2 separate regions of the Homo sapiens genome follow, and region 1 is linked to region 2. Evidence: fine-mapped expression QTL. Tissue or cell type: B cells. Region 2 holds a variant in brackets; the other region holds the start of a gene. All regions are shown on one strand. Distances are between the middles of the regions.

Region 1 (8,346 bases), 33 kb before region 2:
TGGAATTGTGAGGGGGCACAGGGAATAGACCCTCAGGTCTGTCCTGTGTCCTTGAGGTCCATGCCAATCCTGGCTCTACATCTGATATTTCTTGGGGAGTATACAGCCCGGTTTCTTCTCTGGATGTTCTGATTAGCATCTGTGGCTGAATCAGCAGTTGACTAATGCCCAGCACTCAGCTCATTGAGGGCCAGCCACTTCTCCCTGCAGATCCACACTTTGCTTGGCTTGTGCAAGGCTAGACACACATTCTCTGTCAGGTACCTCACCCCGATAGCCTGTGAGGCATGTAATTCTACTCTCTTAACGATGCAGTCTTCCCTGTCCTCTGTGGAATTGTTTGTGTGTTTTTCTATCAATTATCTATACTGATAAGTTTCCTTTGGAAATTTCCAATAACTATTGGGTTAAGAGAGTGATCTATTAAATATTTAGTTCCCTGAGATGGTTCAGGACCGTCATCACCTCAAATGTACTTGATAGAAGAAAGAAGCCATTATTGTTTACTTTGTCATTTTGAATAGGCATTTTGTTACATTATTTGTTGCTTCAACTTTTTAAAATTTTAATTTTAATTTCAATGGTGTTTGGAGTACAGGTTACATGGATAAGTTCTAAGATTTTGGTGCACCTGTCACCTAAACAATGTACACTGTACCCAATGTGTAGTATTTTATCCCTCACCCCCCTCCCACCCTTCCCGCCGAGTCCCCAAAGTCCACTGTATCATTCTTCCGCTTTGCATCCTCATAGCTTAGCTCCCACTTATAAGTGAGAACATACAATATTTGGTTTTCCAATCCTGAGTTACCTCACTTAGAATAATGGCCTCCAGTCCATCCAAGTTGCTACAAAAGACATTATTTCGTTCCTTTTTATGGCTGACTAGTATTCCACAGTGTATATATACCACATTTTCTTTATCCACTCATTGGTTGATGGGCATTTAGGTTGGTTCCATATCTTTGCAATTGCAAATTGTGCTGCTATAAACATGTGTGTGCATGTGTGTTTTTCATATTATGACTTATTTTCCTTTGGGTAGGTACTCAGTAGTGAGACTGCTGGATCAAATGGTAGTTTACTTTCAGCTTTTTAAGAAATCTCCAGCTGGGCACAGTGGCTCACACCTGTAACCCCAGCACTTTGGGAGGCTGAGGCGGGTGGATCACGAGGTCAAGAGATTGAGACCATCCTGGCCAACATGATGAAACCTCATCTCTACTAAAAATACAAAAATTAGCTGGGCATGGTGGTGTGCACCTGTAGTCCCAGCTACTTGAGAGGCTGAGGCAGAAGAATCACTTGAACCCGGGAGGCAGAGGTTGCAGTGAGCCGAGATCATACCACTGCACTCCAGCCTGAGCAAGAGAGATACTCCATCTCAAAACAAAACAAAACAAACAAACAAACAAACAAAAAAAAGGTAAAAAAAAAAAAAACAAAGAAACAAAATAATTCCGTAGCAAAGTCACTGAAACATGAAGTAGCATGATTAAAAATGGAAGAAAACCCAGAAGGTGCATAACGGGATAAAAACAACAGTAAATATTGATTTGTGTATCATAAAGGTTAAGAGGTATTTGTGAAAATGGTTAGCTCTGGAGTATTTTCACACATAAAGAAATGACTGCATTTGTTACTGGGCTTATAACATTCAACATGAGGCTGTGGTAGCGGGCCTCCAAGATGGCACCTGATGACCCCACCTTATGTCAGCTCCACCTCCCACATCTTACCAGACTGGCTCTGTGTAACCAATGGCAGAAGAGATGATATGTTTCAAGATAAGGTTATAAAAAGACACTGCTGCTCCCACCTCAGTCATTCCCTGGTCCACTGTCTCAATTTCTCTATTCACTCATTCTGCAGGAACAAAGAGCTGGCAGGAAAAGCCCAGCCTTCTGATAAGGTTCTGAGGATTTTGTCCAAAGGCCTAAGAGGAGCTGAGGACTCTTGCTAACAGCCACATGAGCTTGAAATTGAATCCTTTAAACTTGGGAAACCTTCAGAAGATTGCAGCCATATGCAACAGCTTGTCTGCGTCCTCATGAGACACTCTGAGCTGGAACCACCCAGATAAGCTGCTCCCTCCTGGTCCACAGAAACTGTTTAAGATAAGAAAAATTCGTATTTTTAAGATGCTAAGTTTGAGGGTTATATTTTACATGGCAATAGATATCTAATACAGAGTTGAGGGAAGTTCCATGTGCTATTTTGCAAATTTGATGAAAAAAACACATCTCTACATATACATGTAATTTGTAGTGTTTATTCTAAGAATTAGCAGATACTTGCCACCTTCACTTTTCAAGCCACTTTTCAAAAACTTTGTTTTACTACTTAATAGATGATTCTGATCTCCCTTTTAACTGACCCAAAATTCTTCACAATCTGTGCGCTTCTTACTTATCTCATATTCTACTCTCCCCCATCCTTTTTTTTTTCCTTTACTCCATCCATGCTGACGTCTTTTATGTTTCTGGAACGTGCCAAGCAAACTTCCATCTCAAGGCCTTTGTGTTGACAGTTCTTTCTGTCTTAGCTTCTCTTTCCCTGGATATCTGAATATCCATGTGGCTCACTTTCTTCTCCTTCAAATCTTTGCTCAAAACTCTCCTCATCAGTGAGGACAGTATTGAACAGCTTATTTAAAATAGCAGTACCACCCCTCACACTGATGATGCTCCTTATCTGGATTTATTGTCCTTTAACACATGTACAAGTTGAGCATCTCTAATCCAAACACCCAAAATACTCCAAAATCTAAAACTTATTGAGTACTGACATCATGCCACACCTAGAAAATTTCACACCTGACTTCATGTGGTGGGTCATAGTCAAAATGCATTCAAAGCCTTGTTTTATGCATAAAATTACCTAAAATAGTCAGTAAGATTACCTTCAGTCAGTAGCATAAGTGAAACACAAATGAATTTTGTGTTTAGACTTGGGTCTCATCCCCAAGAGATCTCATTATGTATATGCAAATATTCCAAAATCTGGGGGGAAAAAATCTGAAATCTGAAACACTTCCAGACCCAGGCATTGTGGATAAGGGATCCTCAACCTGTAGTAATTTTATTGCGTCTCTCCCCCTCACTGAAATACCAGCTTCAACAGGGTGGGGCTTTTCATCTCTTCAGTCACTTATGCACTTCCATCCATGATGTGTCCTGATGACCTAGAACAATGCCTGACACTTAGGAAGTACTCAATAAAATATTTGTTGATGTAAATCAATTGAAATATCAGTCCCATAGGGATGGGGATTTTCATCCCTTTAGTCACTTATCCACTTACTTGATATATCCTCATTACCTAGAAGAATGCCTGACACTTAGCAGGTACTCAATAAATACTTGATGTGAGCTCCTGAAATGAGTTTAGTTCAAGGGGCTTTTTTACAATACCAATTATCCTAAAGTAAAGATGACTGCCTATATTTAAATTTCCTGACTCCGTAGGTTGTCAATAAACAGGGACTATGATCTGAAAGCAAAGTTCAGTTTAAAAAGAAAAGTATGTGCTTGTATGAGTCACAAAAAAGGGCTAAGTACAAAAGAACTGCTGAGGTAAACATGAACATCGTTCTGTGAACTTATGATTTAAATAAAATCTTTATCACCACACTTGCCAAGAGCAATATATCTTATCATGAACGTACATAAAAAACTCTTGTGTCTTTCCTCTTAATACTCGGAACATTATTTTTATTTTTATTACGAAGTTTGCATTGGAGAATATTGTAACTCACTGCACCTAGGTAAAAACTAAAGACATAAATCTGATGTTAGTTCTAAAAATCTACAAGGGTAATGATATGAATTTCACAGACATGGAAGCCTTGTTCAGAATAGATGATAATAGAAAGGCTCGGTAGAGCCAGGTTCATGAGTGTGTGACCTGTGCAGAAGTGGGTGCTTAGAAGGCCCATGGCTTGGGTTAATGCTCTGCTGTTGCCGTCTTGAAATTCTTCACAATTTATGAACAAGGGAACTTCATTTTCAGTTTACACGGAACCCTGCAAATTATGTACTTGGCTCTATCTTCCTTTGCAAACGGAGAAACAGGCTTCAAGAGTTTTGAAACTGCCATAATAGATCCAAAAACTGTGTATGCTTTTCACATCTGTACAATTTTGTTACGTATTTATAAACATCTGCTGAATGGATGACTCTATGTATTGGCCCACATCACTTCAGAACTAGGTCTTGAACTTAGGGATTGTGGCAAGAAGGAAAAAGGCAGCTTCCGGTGGCTCACAGGGCAGGCCAGGTGGCTCACACCTGTGAGCATTTTGGGAGGCCAAGGCGGGTGGATCACTAGAGTCCAGGAGTTCGAGACCGGCCTGGGCAATATGGCAAGATCCTATCTCTACTAAAAATACAAAAATAGCCTGGGGTGGTGGCACGCGCCTGTAGTCCCAGGTACTCCGGAGGCTGAGGCAGGAGGCACTTGAACCTGAAGGTCGAGGCTGCAGTGAGACCTGATCTCAACACACACAAAAGAATGACTCTCAGGCTTCTTTTTTTCTAATGGATGGAAGTGAAACCTCGAAAGCACATGGTCAAGTGCCTGACTCTTCCAAAACAAAAACAAAAACAAAAAAACTAGCCTCAGCAAGGAGGTCCGTAGCCTCCAGCTGACCGGATTTTCAGTCACAGAACACCGGGGACCTAAAAAAGGGTCAATCTCAGCATCGTGCACTCAACCCAGCTCCTTCCGCCCCTCGAGCCCAGGCTGGGAGGAGCCGAGGAACCGAAAGAGAAAACAGGCCGCGCGGGCGGCAGAGGAGCCGGGCGCCGCAATGGACGTGCGGGCGCTGCCGTGGCTGCCGTGGCTGCTGTGGCTGCTGTGCCGGGGCGGCGGCGATGCGGACTCCCGCGCCCCCTTCACCCCGACCTGGCCGCGGAGCCGCGAGCGTGAAGCCGCCGCCTTCCGGGTACCGAGCGCGCGCCTCCCCGGGATCTGTCCCTGCTCCCTCACTTCCTGTCCCGGGTCTGGGCTGCGGAAGAGGGCCCCCGAGAGCTGACCCTGCTCGTGGGCACCCGTGGCTCTGCGATGCGTCTGGGGCCCTGAGCTGCGGGTGCAAAAGCCAGCTTCTCTCTCCCCTCTCCTTGTGCCATGGTGTCACTCCCCCATGCCTTTGCTAACCAAAAGACTTGATTTTCCAGAAGAGATTTGTCGCTATGGATTTTTGGGACGCACCCAAATAAATCCATAGATACGTCCAAAGTGTCCTTGGTGGGAAGAAGCACCCCCTTTTAGCAATCCCCTCTATCGTTGCCACTGGCTTCCAAAGCTCTTCTATTTCTCTTTTATGAGAACCAGAAACAGGGAGCAGCCTGTTGGTGGAAGAAACCTGTCGTGTTTTTTTTTCCCGAGGAGGGCGCTAGTGATCAGAAGTTAGAAACAAAGAGCCTGTCTTTAGCCAGATTAAAGAATCCTGATGGTTTATGATTCTCCTTAAACTAACGCACCACTTTAAAAGTTCTTCCTGCCTTGGCGGAGACTGAGTTGAAGAAAAGAGAAGCATTTAATTTCCTTTTCATATTATTATACGAAATATAATATAATTTATATTTTATAATATTTATAATAAATACTTAGATTTGAGTCTAGCATGAAAACTCTGGAAGGGACCAGTTAGCTGAGCACAAATAATGATTTTCCTGAAACCAAGGAAACTGCAAGGGATGCCGATTTAGTGTTCGCCTCACTATGTTCTAGATAGCTGATACTATTTAACACATTTTTAAATTCATGAAAGATGCCATTATCATGATTTAATTTATTGGAAAAGAAAATTCTTTCATTCTGAATCAAACATAAGTCTGAGTTGAGTAATATTGCTCAAGGAAGTGTATCTTTTTTCCTGGTGTTTGTTGGAATTTCTCACAGGATTTCATAGCTGTGCTCTTTTCCCCCGACTCTCCTGGAAAGCTCCAATGTTTAGGAAGGCCAGCCTTCCCTGATTCTGTCCACTCTTACGTTTTGTCCAAACCGAGATGTGTACTGTTATCTCCACTTTATTATTCTTGAGTTCAGTTCTAGCTTTCAAAACCAGAAGTCCTCTTACTCTTTCAAGAACAAAATTCTGGCCTGTATTCTACCCCTATCCTCAACTTACGTTCGTTTTCCTGGTAAACGAAACCCCTTAGGGGAAAAGTCAGTTTCACCTTTATTGGTAACGTATTCATTGGCTAAATAAATAAACACACTGTCAGGCTCCTAAAAATAATATTTCAGGACAAAGCTCAAAGGGCTAGACTTATAAATATATTTTTAACATTTATTTAGATTTTAGATAATTTATAAATATATATGTGTATAATTTATGTAGTGACTCATACTGGTCCTGTAAAGAGGCCATACCCTGATGAATGTCTAGAAAATGTAACTTTTCTCAGGAGAAATACAAAGAAACAGGTTGAAAGATGGAAAGTTGGAAGTGGAGGAGGATCGAATTATGAAGACTCTTAGTACATTTTAAAAACCTCGGGTTAAGAAATACTGAAAAAATTTTCAAAGCAATTGCTGCCTGTAAGAATTTGCTTCATGAGATGGATACCCAAAAAAGAGAACATTGAGGCTTCAACGCACAGTTGCTGGAAACTGAACACCTCTCGGTGCTTAGTTGGACTTTATCCAAGAATGCTTTAAAACCGATTTTCTACCTTAGTGGTCCCCAATCTTTTGGCACTAGGGACCGGATTCATGGAAGACATTTTTTCCATGGACGGGAGGAGGGAAGTGGGGGAGATGGATGGATTTGGGATGAAAGTCTTTCATCTAAGATCATCAGGAATTAGTTAGATTAGTTAGCTGGAGATTGCTGTTCGGACTTGGGATAGAGAGCTGGACAGTGGGAAAGGTGGAAAGGGCCTTGCCTCCTTGGTAACCGTGAAACTTCTTGTTGAAATCAAGTTAATTCATTGGTGAATTGATGATTCAGGGGTTTGCAGCTGAAGATCTGGTTCAAGAAAGTCCTTGATTAATTAGTAATGTCTTTCATGGTCATGGGTTTAGAGAATGGTGAAGGTTTTAAAATTTGTTTTAATCTTAGCCTTAGATAGTTTTGTAAGTTTCCCAGGAATGCACGTTAAATGAAAGTTAGGTTAGCCCATGACTTTCCCACAAAATATTATAGTATTGTTCAGTGAAAACTAGACTCCACTATGGTTTATTATGGGATGCCTCACAAGACACCTGACTTTGGATGGCACCCCTTATCTCTGCACTTTCACTCCTTTAGAAACTTCCAGTGCTCAGGAAGCTCTTAACTATTGGATTTAGCCTACTCTCCTTTGTGCCAAAACCTAGCTATGCCCTCATATTTACTGATGCTCATTATTTTACCACAGAACATTTGGTATTCTTATCCTTTTGGGAGGCACAGACCCAATATTGGATCCAATAAAATTTGCTTGATACACTCACTTTAGAATAATATCTATGCCAAAGTACATGTGATTTTACATAAAATTTCCAAAGCTTTACCTTAAGACCAGTTGCCGTAATGACACAGGTTATATTATTATAAGATTATTTATATATTTAGGAATATTTATTTATGTGTAAATAGATGGCCATAGCATCTTTATAACAAGTGATCCTAACTAATGAGCCACTTATATGTGCTTGCCGTAATCAGCCCCTTGAAATCTGGAATTAGGTCCTCCAAATAGGCTTTATCCAAGAAAGCTTTAAAACCTATTTTCTACCTCAGTGGTCCCCAAACTTTTTGGCACCAGGGATTGGTTTCATGGAAGACAATTTTTCCACGGACTGGGGTGTGGGGGTGGGGTGAGGAGGATGCGGATGATTTCAGAATGAAGCTGTTCCACCCCAGATCATCAAGCATTAGATTCACATAAGGACTGTGCAAACTAGATCCCTTACATGCACCGTTCCCAGTAGGGTTTGTGCTCCTATGATAATCTAATGCTGCTGCCGATCTGACAGAAGGTGGAGATCAGGTGGTGATGCATGCTCGCAGGCCCCTCACCACCTGCTGTGCAGCCTGGTCGTTAACAGGCCACAGAACAGTACTGGTCCATGGCCCAGGGTTTTGAGACTCCTGTTCTACCTTATATAAAGATGAAAACACGAATTTGATGTTAGATAAGGTTGTTCAGCAGACTTTTTCTGATGAATCTCACTTAAAGCATACATTGACTAAATGGAAATATATCATAAACTTAAAATCATAGGTTATAATTTATTCATCTTCCCATACATTTATCCAATACTTTATTTAATTTCCACTGTGTCTAAAGAACTGGTCTGGGTTTTCTGAGGGATACAGTGGAGAATAAGACGCGTGCTGTCCTGTAAGAAATG
Region 2 (8,292 bases):
CCTACAAAAGATTCTAAGGCCTAGTAGTATTTAAACTAAGTTTCAGAATGTTCCCTTCTTGTAGAGAGATGGACAACCAAAGTCAGTGGGACAAACTCCAGCACAGAAGCCTGCGAGGAAGCCTATGGAATAGTTTCCTGTCCTGAGACGAAATTCAGATTAGGAGATATTTTAGGCCCCTGCAACTGGGGAAGGCTACTGTTTGTTTTTGTTTGCTTATTATTTATTTGTTTGTTTATTGTGAGATATTTCAGGTGGGATCAAAGAGGTCATAAGAATTTATTTTCTTTTGTGGGGTGTAACTACTAGCTTTAGATTACCCCTATACACAAGAATGGCCAACCTAAAATTATGTGTGTCTTGTACAGTTAGTTATATTAGCAGCCCTCTGAGATGGCGTATCTATCGGAAGGATTTCAAACACCAATTGCTTTACCTGAACAAATGGTGCTTACCCTTTGAACAGCAGAGTGACCACGTAGAAGGAAGGAAAAGGGCAAAATCGCTTCAGTTAAACTGAAATTAAATGAACAATAAGGCAACTATATAAGTAACTTCTAGTAGCATTGCCTGAGAGACAAATTATTGTTTGATAATTTTCATTGTGAATAGGAATCCAATAGATCATATTGCTTACTTTGTTCTTTTTATACTATAGAATAATATTTTGTTCTCTAGTATATCAAAATACCAAAATATTATCTCATATTTTCTCCCTCTTTCTCTTACTCTTTACCAAGTTTTCCTGGTGGCTTGGCTTCCCTGACTAAAGAATTAAGTCTCATTTTTACTTTCCATTTCTATTTTCTTACCACTTGGTTGGCTCCCTTTGTCTCTGTACCTTTACCAACATTAGGATCTCACCTCTTTCTTCCTCCCTTAATTCATAAGCACCACTCCTATCAAAGTCCCATCTCTTAACCCTGGGTATCAAACAAACTGTGAGTTTTCCAGAATCTGTTTCCCAGTTTTCCCCTCAGCTTTCCTGGTCTCCCATCCGAACTGCTTCTTTGTGCACCTCTTGTTCTTTCTCTTGGCTCCCAGTCTTGATTCCTGTGATCACTCTTGCATCACTAATTGCACAAGTGATTTCAGGTGCAATTCTGATTAGCCTGCGTCCACACAGTGATCGATGATCCTATGTGCCTAGAAAGGACACTGTGTGCTGCTCATGACCTGCAACAGGAAAAAAGCCATTTCTTGTTAGCAGTGTAAGAACCTTAGAGCAAAGGAGTTGACCTTCTGATTGAATATAAGCACAACCATATTAAATGAATCAATACAAGAAAATTATTTCTGATACTATGTATGTACATATTTCTTCTCTAAAATGTATCATTCTTTTCTAATGTATATGATCTAACAAAAATGAAACATGAAATGCAGTAGCAACCACTAAAAAAAAAAATTCAAGGACATCTAACTTTTTCTCTCACTTTTGCCCTTTGTTTATCCTTCCCTGTGATTAGATAAACAAAATAAAAAACAAAATGCTGTATTTCTCTTCTTACGCCAGTCAGAACCAATCCGAAAAGAATGTGTGTTGACTCAGGTTTGGAGTTATTTCAGGAAGACAGATATTGACCTTTTAATTGATAAATATTCTTATTATCCTGGAATGCCAGAAAAGAACTATGTCCTGCTTGTCTAGTTTGTATTCGCTGACTTTCTATGTGATATAGATGCATTTGTAATACTCTTTTTCAAGTGCTAAAGGATTTCTAAAATTTCAAACTGATTAATATGTTTCTGCTGTTCTGGATTTTGATGACATTTACAATAAAACAACCTACATTTGACTTTGGTTTAAAAAGAACCTCTTCTTAAGTGTATGGCTTACATTTTGTCAACACGGTATTAATGTGCTTTATATTTACAGTTTTCTCAGCTCTAAATTAATATATCCAGCTTTTGGTTTTCTCCATAGGCACTTTAACCTCAGTGTTTCCGAAACTCCATTCGTCATCCTCCCTAACTTCTCCCACCACCCCCAACAAAAATTTCCTTTACCTCTAAGAGCCTCTATTTTGGTTAACAGAATCAACATTATGGAATCACCCAATCAATAAAATTAAGACAAATCCTAAACATTTAAGCAGGTCATCTGCACCTTGGTAACCCATCAATGAATTACCTACCTCCTGTGGCTACTGTCATTTCTTAGTTGCATGTTCTTTAGTGTCATTTATCTCCATTATTCAGTAGCCTACTCATTATTCTCTATGTCCCTTAGTCCAGACCCAAAGTCTGGTGATTCAGATTGATGTTCTTATAGTCCATCTACTGTATTTCCCCTGCATTTACATTTCTCAAAGACGTTATCAGTTTCTCTGTTCACAACCGTTCAAGGGCTCCCAATGCCTTATGATACCATGTGAGCTCTTTTAAGTGAGTTTTCACGAAGAAGCCCCTCTCTACCTTTTCAACCGTGATTGCTGCTGTGCTGCATAGTTTGATCACTCTTATGCTGTGATCCAGCCATAACAAACTACTTGAAGTCAAAGCAACAAAATCCTCACCTAATAATTAGAAGTCATAATGAAAGTCATCAACGTGTTTCTGGATGTGGTTTCACAAAGATCTCAAAGTGAATACTAAATTAGCCCACCTTACAGTGATTTTCTAGCCCATTTAAAAGTTATAAAGTGGGTCATCAGCACTAGAAGCAAGTGTGACTGGGGAGGGTGGGGACTTGCAGTCTAAATTATTTTGATATTTACATGAAGAATGACTGATATATCCTTTGATAAAACTCTTGCAACTTCTAGCTTAGTCACACCAAGAAATATAGGTGTAAAGAACTAAATATAACCATATAGTCTATGATATGGTTTAGCTATGATATGGTTTAGCTGTCTCTTAACCCAAATCTCACCTTGAATTGTAATAATCCCCACATGTCAAGGGCAGGGCCAGGTGGAGATAATTGAATCATGAGGGTGGTTTCTCCCATACTGTTCTCATGGTAGTGAATAAGTCTCACAAGATCTGATGGTTTTATAAATGGGAGTTCCCCTGCACAAGCACTCTTGCCTGCCACCATGTAAGACATGACTTTGCTTCTCCTTTGCTTTCCACCATGATTGTGAAGCCTCCACAACCATGTGGAACTGTGAGTCCATTAAACCTCTTTCCTTTATGACTTACCCAGTCTCAGGTATGTCTTTATTAGCAGCATAACAGCAGACTAATGCAACAGGCTAAGAAGGGAGTTACAGTATTGGCCAGGGTGATTGACCTGGACTATGAAGACGAAATCAGTCTACTACTCCACAATGGAGGTAAGGAAGAGTAGGCATGGAACACAGGAGAACCCTTAGGGTGTCTCTTAGTATTGCCATGCCCTGTGATTAATGTCAATGGGAAACTACAACGGCACAATCCTGGCAGGACTACAAATGGCCCAGATACTTCAGGAATGAAGGTTTGGGTCACTCCAGCAGGTACAAAGCCACAACCTGCTGAGGTGCTTGCTGAAGGCAAAGAGAATAAGGAATGGGGGTAGTGGAATAAGGTAGTCATCAATAGCAGCTTCAGCCATGTGACCAGTTGCAGAAATGAGGACTGTAATTGTCATGAGTATTTCCTCTTTATTTTGTTGAGAACATGTTTGCACATATATATACTTGTACTAAGAAAATATATTCATTTTATTTCCTTTATTTTTCCTTTATCATGTGATGTAAGATTTGTTGACTTCATATCAGCATTTAAGTGTTGTTAACTTTAGGTAATAGCATTTGGATTGGGGATTGGTGCACTTCCAGTTGTACAAAGGATAGCTGTATTGTGTTAGATGTAATTATGACCTTATTATTGGCTTCAGTTGAAGATTATGTGTGATTTCAGGAGATGTGGATGGGTTCAAGTTGACAAAGTTGTGATGGTTAATATTGAGTGCCAACTTGATTGGATTGAAGGATGCAAAGTATTGTTCCTGGATGTGTTTGTGAGGGTGTTTCCAAAGGAGATTAACATTTGAGTCAGTGGACTGGGAGAGGCAGACCCACCCTCAGCCTGGGTGGGCCCTGTCTAATCAGCTGCCAGTGTGAAAGGAGGCATGGAGAGAACAGACCTGCTGAGTCTTCTGGCCTCCATCTTTCTCCCATGCTGGAGGCTTCCTGCCCTGGAATAACAGACTCCAAGTTCTTCAACTTTTGGACTCTTGGACTTATATCAGTGATTTGCCATGGGCTCTGGGGCCTTCGGCCACAGACTGAAGGCTACAATATTGGCTTCCCTCCTTTTGAGGTGTTGGGACTTGGACTGGCTTCCTGGCTTGCAGACCTATTGTGGGACTTCACCTTGTAATTTTGTAAGTCAATACTCTTTAATAAACTCCCCTTCATATATACATCGATCCTGTTAGTTTTGTCCCTTTGGAGAATCCTGACTAATACAGTCTATTAAAATAATGATAAACGTTGACAAATAACATTTACACCAATATTCTAAGGCACTTTGGTGACAGAATATCTATTAACACATGTTTCTCCTGGGAAATAGCAAAGCTTATAAAATAAGTACTTTTATCCCCAGATGGATAGGAAACTAGGCTTCAACTGGTGATAGTACCAGATAGTTAATAAATGGCAGAGCCAGAATTTGCCCTCGAGCTTGTTGATTTCAAAGCTAGTGCCTTTTAGCCACCAT[G/A]CCATTTGCCTCTGTATTATATCAGCCTAGCCACCATCAGATACTGTGTATACACACATACATGAGCACACAACAGTCATGGAGACAAAAACAATTATATGTAATTCTGAGACAAACTAGATGATATAATCCTTATAAGACCTTATAAGAAAAAACTTGCAAATGAAACCAAAGAATAGTTCAATTCCATCAAGAACTTACTGCTTGCTAGTGATAATCACTCTAGGTCAAGGTTGACATACATTTTAGATTTCTTAAATAATATTATGTACTTCCTCCCATAACAAAAATTTAAGTTTTCCCAATAACCTGGCCAAGCTAGAAAAAGAAGACTAAAACTCATGTCTGATCTAAACTCTTAGCTTAGTTAATGTCTTATTAGAAATGAACTGGGTCACTGTCCAGTCTGTGTACTTTCTTCTGGAAAGCACATCTTCTTTGAGGGGACTGTTCCTTGCTTTTACCTCAGTTCTGCATGCATTAGAGTTCACTCCACCTCCCAGACCACAGGCATGGGAGCTGGGGGAAAGAGAAGCTTTGCCCTGTGTGAGTCTGATGGTGCTGGAAACTGGGACCCAGCCTGAGACAGAAGCTGTTCTACTGCAGGAAAGAATAAAGCCAACACCTACAGAGAAGAGATGAGACAAAAAAGATCTCAGAAGAGTGTTCCAGGAATATAGCACTCCAGGAACTGGACCCAGTCCTTGTGGCATCAGAGTTTTCAGGCTCCTCTTTCAAGGCTTTTTGGACAGTGTTCATTTGAATTCTGCAAGCTAGTAATTCTTCAGTATATCCCCTCTAGACAAACTTCAGATAGATTTCTGTCTTTGGTCATTAAGATTCCTAACAAATACAATCAATATTTCAAAAACAATACAGGGAGAAAGATTAATACTTTATTATTTTAAAAATTTTGTTTGAAAGCCTTTGTACAGAATAATATAATGTACTGCATAAAATATTTGAAATAGATGAAGTTTACAAGTTTATAAAGATGAAACAATGAGATAGTGATTACATTAAGTGGTTACATTAAGTCTCAGGGGAAACTGAATTTTTAATAGGAAAACACCCTATGTACAATGTTACTATTTAAATGTATTCTTTCTCATCTTAATGCTTAGTCTTGTCACAAACAAGAGGTAATCAAATTGTTTCTAGAATTAAATCAGAGCATCGTGGTGCTGAACAATATATGCATACATATATTCAAACTGTATTTATGAAAATCCATAGAAAATAAAAAATAGGCTGTGAAACCAGTATTCTTCATAGATTTTGCAGACGATTTTAATCTGATTCATCACTGCTGAAGTAGGAGCTATCACAGTATTCTGCTGTATATAGAAATTTGTGAATGGTTGGGTTCATCTTCGGTATCCAGTGTCGGGGAATCAGGTATGTTGAAAGATTAAATAAATCTACAAATACCTTGTACCTATCACTGGAAAAACATACATGAAGATGTGTTACATTGGTTGACATGAAATATTTAAATTTTTCAATTAGAAAATTTATTTCTCAGATATTTTCCATAGTTAGTATTCAATATTATAATATATATTGCATGTTGTATATATCATATATTAAATTAGGTATTATGTAGTATTAGTATTGATTGTCTGCTTTTTATTCCATTTTCAAAGTTTATGCCCATAAAACAGTATTATGTGTTTTAGAACAGGGTGTTTCCTATTAAAACCGAGAGTCTTATTGCTGACACCTTCATAAAGATAAAGATGTGTTCTCATTTCCTACTTCTGAAGGATGCTATGCAAGGTAATACATTTAAAGCAAACAGTCTTAGATGCTCATTTGGAAATATTTCCAACTGAAAAGATGCCAAATAACTGCCCTGAAGGGTTTAATAAATTGAAATGCCATCTTAGACTCATAATAAATGTCCATGAAGTAGTTTTAACACTAAAATTGCTTTTGTGTGGTTAGTCAACAATTTTAACTGTTGCAGTTTTATGGAGGAAGAACATTTGCCTTTGAAGTTAAATAAATCTGGGTTCAAATTCTGGTTCTATCACCTACAATTCAAGGACCTTTGACAAGTTGTTTAAACTTCAATGCCCCAGTTTCTAACTCTATAAAATGAAAACTTTAGTCCTTCCTTTTGGTCAGGTCTTTTTAAAACTGAGATAACAACACACTAGAGATGCCATTTGTGTTCATTATTCCCACCACCCACTGATGTGTGTGCTCATTTGGTATAGGCAGTTATCAACTGTTTTGTGCTTACAGAATTCATTTCCAGGGACAGTGAAAATGTCTAAAAATGATGAAAATTTAAACCTGTGTATTTCAGAAACCAACCAATCTGGTAATAACAGTAGGGACGAAAGCAATGTGCTGTAAAGATTTGAGGTGGGGCTAAATGCAAATGTCTAATTTATTCTTGAATTGATTCTTCTTTTTCAAGGGACCACAGAAGTTTTTCAGTTTCCCGATGTATCCATTTGTCCATTTATCTATGATATTGTGAATATCAAAATAAGAATGTACATCCCTTAGAAACCTCTCTAGCATATTTTAAGTCCTCAATAAATGTTGATCTCTTTCCTTGTAAACACTTTAAAAGGGGCACTCTCTGGAGTAGATGGAAATAGTTTTATAATATAAAATAGCCATATCAGAAAACAAGACGCTACTTTAACTGTGTCATTTATCTAGCCAGGAAGACATTAGTAGAATTAATGATAAATGTTTTAGTCTGGTCAAAACTTGAGTCACAATGAGTTGAAGACTTTTCTGCCTGGATGTAAGCACTGTTAAACCCTTTGTGTCCTCACATATCATGCAGCCATTGATACCATATCCCTTTTCATACAGGATCAAAACAGTGAAAGTTCATAATTAAAGATTTTATAAAATTACCACCAAAAGTCTGAACTGGAATATTCTAACTACAAACGTGTTGTTAGTAGTTCAGACAGGAGCAAATAAAATGGCTTTTTTTAGATAGCAAATGTATAGGTGGAGAAACAAATTGTTGGTGACTGCCACCAGGAAGAAAGGAGAATTTCCCCACCTACCTCACAGTTGATCGCAGGTAGTGATAGCCTGAGGAACCACCGGTGCCAGCTTTGCTGCCCAGCATTCTGTGCACCATGCACACATGGTTATCTAGGCAAACATACAAATTTACTCCATGGATATTTTTCCACCATTAGTTCCACAATGTTCTAACAATGAGGGGTTGGTAATGATAATTGCTTCTGAGAAAATGTTGACAACTAACACTTGGCCATATGGAAGGCTCATACATGAGAGCCAGATGAGACTGTGAGGTTGCCTAGCGCTCCACTTGCTTCAGGCTACATGCATTTCACTCCATCCTTCGCTGCATTTAGCCCATGGATACAATAGAAGAGACCAGGATCATAATATGACTCATGAGTCCATGCCACCTTTGCCTTTATGGGGTCCTTCATTTAAAAAAATAAAAAAACTATTAAAATTAAAAATTTAAAACTGCATTGGCATAATGGCAAATAAATTACTCTTATGTAATAAAACTTTTATGACCTAAAGTTTAATTTTTCCTTTAGATTTTAAAATAAAACATTTTCATGAGCCCCCAAAAGTATTGTGGGCCTTAGGTACTGTGCCTAGTGTGTATATGAATAAGTT

The links. PIP is the estimated chance that this variant, and not a neighbour inherited with it, causes the effect. A credible set is the group of variants that fine-mapping cannot tell apart.
Region 1: CTSO starts here. The variant in region 2 is the best candidate, but not a certain one, in a credible set for the expression of CTSO in B cells (Fairfax 2012, PIP 0.52).

What each region holds. Positions count from the first base shown.
Region 1 is chr4:155,950,312-155,958,657 of GRCh38, reverse strand. It overlaps CTSO (cathepsin O), which reads left to right and starts at 4,792. Exons shown (of 8, transcript NM_001334.3): 1 at 4,792-4,945. The coding sequence starts at 4,811. RefSeq lists an enhancer at 3,387-3,681.
Region 2 is chr4:155,917,642-155,925,933 of GRCh38, reverse strand. TDO2 (tryptophan 2,3-dioxygenase) reads right to left here. Exons shown (of 12, transcript NM_005651.4): 11 at 7,695-7,785; 12 at 5,528-6,097. The coding sequence ends at 5,944. It overlaps CTSO (cathepsin O), which reads left to right. Exons shown (of 8, transcript NM_001334.3): 8 at 1-1,816. Among named protein-coding and RNA genes, the nearest start is that of TDO2, 18 kb to the right of the region's middle. The variant G/A (reference allele first, on the strand shown) is at 4,654.